2 separate regions of the Homo sapiens genome follow, and region 2 is linked to region 1. Evidence: fine-mapped expression QTL. A gene starts in region 1. The other region holds a variant in brackets. All regions are shown on one strand. Distances are from middle to middle.

Region 1 (2,901 bases):
CAACCCTCAGTTACAACCTCCTGAGAGCCCTTGAGGCTGTGGTACCCTGGCTCCTGACTCACAGATCCTGTGAGATAATAAAATGGTGCTGTTTCAGCTGCTAAATGGGTGATTTGCTATGAAGGGCAGAAAACAAAGGGAAGCAGTGTGACCAGCAAGAGCGGCCGCTCACTCATGTCCTTCCATGTCCGGAGTCAGCATGGTGTAGACTGAGAAAACATTTTATTCATATTCCTTTTTCTTTTTGTTTTGAGACGGAGTCTTGCCCTATCGCCAGGCTGGAGTGCGGTGGCACAATCTCGCCTCTGGGGTTCAAGCAATTCTCCTGCCTCAGCCCCCCGAGTAGCTGGGACTACAAGCGTGCGCCACCATGCCCAGCTAACTTTTTGTATTTTAGTAGAGACAGGGTTTCACCACGTAGGCCAGGATGGTCTTGATCTCCTGACCTCCTGATCTGCCTGCCTCGGCCTCCCAAAGTGTCAAGATTAAAGGCATGAGCCACTGTGCCTGGCCTCCTTTTTCTCTTTTGAGACTGGGCCTTGCTCTGTGGCCCAGGCTGGAGTGCAGTGGTGCGGTCATAGCTCACTGCAGCCTCAAACCCTAGGGTGAAGCCACCCTCCTGCTTCAGACTCCCAAATTGCTGGGATTACACACGTGAGCCGCCCCGTCCGGCTGGGGCACTGTGATTTTTAATAACTCTCATGCCACCCAGTTGTCTACAATCCAGGGACAAAGAGGTTTGGGTCCCCGTCTTACAAAAAAAAGAAACCAAAGATCCAAGAGGCTATTGAATAAGTGACGTGTTGTCTGACTGCTTACTTCCTGCTGAGAGCTGCCTCAATTACATTACATGCCTGTAACCATTCATTCTCACCACCCCCTGTGAAGTGGGTGGAGTTACCAGCCCCATTTGACAAATGAGGAAACGGAGGCTAGGAGAAGGCAGCTCACTTGCCCAGTCAAAAATGCTAGGCTGGGCATGGTGGCTCATGCCTGAAATCCCAGCAATTTAGGGGGCTGAGGCAGGCAGATCGCTTGAGGCCAGGAGTTTGAGACCATCCTGGCCAACATGGCCTCTCTACTAAAAATACAAATATTAGCCGGGCGTGGTGGTACACATTAATTCCAGCTACTCGGGAGGCTGAGGCACAAGAATCACTTGAACCTGGGAGGCGGAGGTTGCAGTGAGCTGAGATCGCACCACTGCACTCCAGCCCGGGTGACAGAGCGAGACTGCGTCTCAAAAAAAATAATGAAAATAAATAAAAGAGGTGCTTCCGCATGCGTCCTCATCATCTCTGTTGCTGGGTTTATTTGAAATTTTTAAAGAGGGGGTACCGACAGCGGGAGCCTCCTCACCTTCGCGGCCTCCCTGGAACTTTACCCGGATCGTCTTGTCGATGTACTTGGACAAGTCCAAGATGCTCTCCTTTTTCTTCTTCTCCTTATCCTGCGGGGAAAGCAGAGCGCATGAGACCTGGAGCGCGGCCCGAGCTCCACGCCCCCCGGCTCCAGATTCCGCCGCGCGCTCACCGCCATCTTGTCGCGCCGTGTGGCTCTTCGCAGGCACCGCCCCGCGCCCTTTGACCTCCCCCACGCGCATGCGCGGCGCATGCGTGGCCCGGGGTCTCGGGGCGTTGCTGGGAAACATCTGCCGTTGGTTGCGGCGGGCACCGGCCGACATGGCGGCAGCGGTGGCGGCTGCGCTGGCGCGGCTTTTGGCGGCCTTTCTGCTCCTCGCGGCCCAGGTGAGCGCGGCACCGGTCCCGACGGCACCGCGGGCTGCGGCCCTTCGGCCTCTCTGTCCCCGGGCTACGCGCAGGAACGACCCCGCTCGGCCCGTCTTGGGGGTCCAGCCTCGGGGATCCGCCGTCCCCGCGTTGTCGGCCGGCGGTGCCGGGGCTCGGCCGTGACCTTGCGGGTCTGTCCCCGGCTCCTCTCCTTTCCCCGCCTCGGAGGCCCTCCGCCGCTGCAGCGCCACTCACTTCCCACCGGGTCTGAAATTTGTGCCCCCTCCATCCTCCGGTTCTGCTTCTCCGTTTCGGGGTCTCCAGTTGCCGCCGGGGACGCCTCTCTCCGGCTCTGTGGCCTTGAGCAGGCGGCTGCCCACCCCTCTCCGAGCCTCAGTTTCCCCTTAGGCGGAACGGGCACGGTGCTAAGCTAACCTCACCCTAGGGGGTGCGGTGGGGGAACCCAGAGGCGTCCCGCGCGTCCCCCAGTAACTGGCAGCATCCTGGAGCGGCCAGGAGTCCAGCCCTGCACTGGGGTCGGATCCCCGCTCCATCTTTTACTCCGTGACCTTGGACGATGGAATTCGTGTGCAGAAGGAGGACCGACTATGGTGTGGATTCTGGAGGTTCTGTCCAGGGTGACCAGCGCCCAGGGCCAACAGGCCTTCATTATGTTCATTGTGTGTCATTTGATGTAAAGAGTGTCAGGTTCTAGTGGGGACAGTCTACGAGATCGCACTGTCATAACTGCATCTTTTATTTTCTTAATTCCAAATCTTCCCTCTCTCCTGAGTTCGGTGGCTCAGGCAATGGAACCTGGAGCAGCCCCACAAATGCAGCCCTTAACCTTCACTACCCCCTCAGAGTTCTCACTCTTAAGGCGTCGCCGCCACCTGGCTCCTCAGTCTCCACTCCTCCAGCCCCACCGCTATCCCTCTGCTGTGGCTGCCTTTGTCCACCACATCCCCAGTCCATCCTCGACACAGCAGGGGTGACCCTTTCAAAGTATGTCAGACCGTGTCGCATCCAGATGAGTGCGCCGTCCAGTTGTGACCTGGCTGCTGGGGAAGCCTGCAGCTCATTGCAGTCGCTTCACTCTCTAGTCTTTTCTCTTACCCTGAGATGCCCCTGGTCTCTGCAAGGCTGTCGGGCCCCCTCGGAAGCTTTCTGA
Region 2 (2,901 bases), 630 kb before region 1:
CTGTGTGCTGGGGGTCCCACCCCCGGCCCTGGAACCTGGGGCAGGAAGGATACTCCATGCACACCTTTCAGGGGGTCAGAGGCTGAGACGGTGCCTGGGGCAGACCCGTGGGTTGGGGTGGGGGTGCCCAGATCTTGACCCCCATCCGTATTCCCAAGGGGCAGAGATGGGACGTGACTCCTCCTGGCCCCCGCCGCCGGCCCGCAGGTGTTGGGGTCTCTGGGCTGGGTCTCCCGGCGTTGTGGCTGCTGCCGAGGGAGATGAGGCCACCCTGATCCCCGCCTGCTCCAGCCGCAGCAACCAAGGACGATCGATAGCCGAGGCGGCCGCTGGGGCTTCTCTCCTCTTGCTGTGGGGTGGGGGCTGGGTGCGGGGCAGCCAGAACTGGGGCCAGAGGTGCAGACGGGCGGGAGCATCTGCAGCCCACCGGTGTCCCTGGCTCCTGCGCGCTCTCCGTCTCTCTCTATCTCTCCGTGTCTCTCTATGTCTCTGTGGGTCTCTGTCTCTCCCTCTTAGTTTCCATTTCTTCTGCCTCTGTCTCTGTGTCTTTTTGTCTCTCTGTCTCTCTGTTTCTGCCTCTCTCTGATTGTGTCTCTTCCTATCTCTCTATCTCTGTCTTTGACTCTCTGTCTCTCTCTGCCTCTATCTCTGTTTCTGTCTCTCTGTGTCTCTCTCTGTCTCTATCTCTTCTCTATTTCACTCTCTGCCTCTCTCTGTCTGTGTCTCTGTCTTTTTCTGTCTCTTTCTCTGTCTCTCTGTGTCTCTCTCTGCCTCTATCTTTCTCTCTGTCTCTGTGTCTGTCTCTGTCTCTCTGTCTCTGCCTCTCTCTCTCTCTGTCTCTATCTCATTCTCTGTCTCTCTGTCTCCCTCTCTCCTCCTCCCTCTCTCTCTTTGCTCCCCCCTCTCCATCACAGAACCCAAAGCAGGACCTGAGATCTCCCCCAGAAGGTGCCCTGGGGAGCCCCCATCACAGCTGAGGACGGGCAGACTCAGGATCACCCCCGTGGCTCCTGGCCCCCGCCCGGCCCTGGCCGAGTCTCCTGTCCACCCAGCCTTTGTTCAAGTTTGAACCTTCCCCACACATCAGAGGCTTCAGATTTCCCCGGAGAATCCGATTTGGGCCACTCCGACGCTGCAGCTGCGTCTGTATTCCGGGCGGGTCC[C/T]GGCCCCACAGACTTCCCGCCATGGCCCACTTCCTGGCACGGGTTGGTTGGCCCCTCACCGGCTGTGAGGTGGGGTCCCTCGCCAGTGGGCAGATGAAAGCAGTCTCCCCTCCTTTCCCCAGCCCCCCGGCCGGAATCCACAGCCTCAGGTGGTGGAAAGAGCACTGTGCGGGGGGAGTCACACCCTCCCAGGTTGGAGTGTCCCTCACAGTGGGACCCTGGAGCCTCAGGGCTCTCGTCTGCAAAGTGGGGGTGAGTTTGAGGAAACAACACCATTTCCTGGAGACAGGCAAGGGCCCCTTAACGGCCAAGACACTTGCAGTACAAGAACTAGGAAACTGGGCTGGGCACGGTCGCTCACACCTGTCATCCCGGCGCTTTGGGAGGCCTAGGTGGGTGGATCACCTGAGGTCAGGAGTTCGAGACCAGTCTGTTCAAGACCAACCTGGCCAACACGGTGAAACCCCGTCTCTACTAAAAATACAAAAATTAGCTGGGCGTGGTGGTGTGCACCTGTAATTCCAGCTACTCAGAAGGCTGAGGCAGGAGAATCGCTTGAACCCGGGAGATGGAGGTTGCAGTGAGCCGAGACCACACCACTGCACCCCAGCCTGGGCAACACAGCGAGACTCCATCTCAAAAAAAAAAAAAAAACAGAAAACAAACAAAATAACTAGGAAACTGTACTTAAATGGCAAGAACAATTGAGTGAAGGTGGGGTGGAAATTCAAATCCAGCTGCAGTATCAGTATTTTCCAAAATGTCTACAATTTTCACTTGTTACCTTGGGCGAGGCACAGTGGCTCTTGTCTATAAACCCAGCTACTCAGGAGGTTGAAGCGGGAGGATCGCTTGAGCCTGGAGGTTGAGGCTGCAGTGAGCTGAGATCACACCACCGCATTCCAGTCTGGGCGACAGACGGAAACCCTGTATCTAAAGAGAAGAGAAGAGAAGAGAAGAGAAGAGAAGAGAAGAGAAGAGAAGAGAAGAGAAGAGAAGAAGAGGAAGAGAAGAGAAGAGAAGAGAAGAGAAGAGAAGAGAAGAGAAGAGAAGAGAAGAGAAGAGAAGAGAAAAGAGAAGAGAAGAGAAGAAGACACCACAGGCCAGGCGCAGTGGCTCATGCGTATAATCACAGCGCTTTGGGAGGCCAAGGTGGGAGAATTGCTTGAGCTCAGGAGTTCGAGACCACCCTGGCCAACGTAGCAAGGCCCCATCTCCAGAAGTTTTGTTTTGTTTTTTTTTTTTTTTTTGAGACGGAGTCTCATTCTGTTCGCCCAGGCTGGAGTGCAGTGGCATGATCTCGGCTCATTGCAACCTCTGCCTCCCGGGTTCAAGCGATTCTCCTGCCTCAGCCTCCCGAGTAGATGGGATTAAAGGCGCTCGCCACCATGCCCAGCTAATTTTTGTATTTTTGTAGAGACGGGGTTTCACCATATTGGCCAGGCTGGTCTCGAACTCCTGACCTCGGCCTCCCAAAGTGCTGGGATTACAGGCATGAGCCACTGCACCTGGCCGAAAATTTTTTTTAGAAAAGAAAAGGCGCAACAATGAGCATCCTTGGACATGAATCTCTTACACTCTCTGAAGTTTTTCTTCAGGACAAATTCATCCTGGAGTTGCTTGTCAAGAGACCATAAAACAAATAGTAAGGCTTTTGATACATTTTATCAAATTATCTCTGAAACTTCATAAAATACATATCCTTCCATTGTACATCAGCCTGTTCATTTACTCTCAT

Evidence for each region.
Region 2: its variant is fine-mapped to the expression of LSM7 in substantia nigra (GTEx, PIP 0.98).

Annotation. Positions count from the first base shown.
Region 1 is chr19:2,327,028-2,329,928 of GRCh38, forward strand. LSM7 (LSM7 homolog, U6 small nuclear RNA and mRNA degradation associated) reads right to left here and starts at 1,559. Exons shown (of 4, transcript NM_016199.3): 1 at 1,534-1,559; 2 at 1,360-1,450. The coding sequence starts at 1,539. SPPL2B (signal peptide peptidase like 2B) reads left to right here and starts at 1,657. Exons shown (of 15, transcript NM_152988.3): 1 at 1,657-1,748. The coding sequence starts at 1,683. RefSeq lists silencers at 564-663, 1,684-1,943 and enhancers at 934-993, 1,274-1,928, 1,364-1,413, 1,424-1,473.
Region 2 is chr19:1,700,369-1,703,269 of GRCh38, forward strand. No RefSeq gene overlaps it. Among named protein-coding and RNA genes, the nearest start is that of TCF3, 49 kb to the left of the region's middle. The variant C/T (reference allele first, on the strand shown) is at 1,164.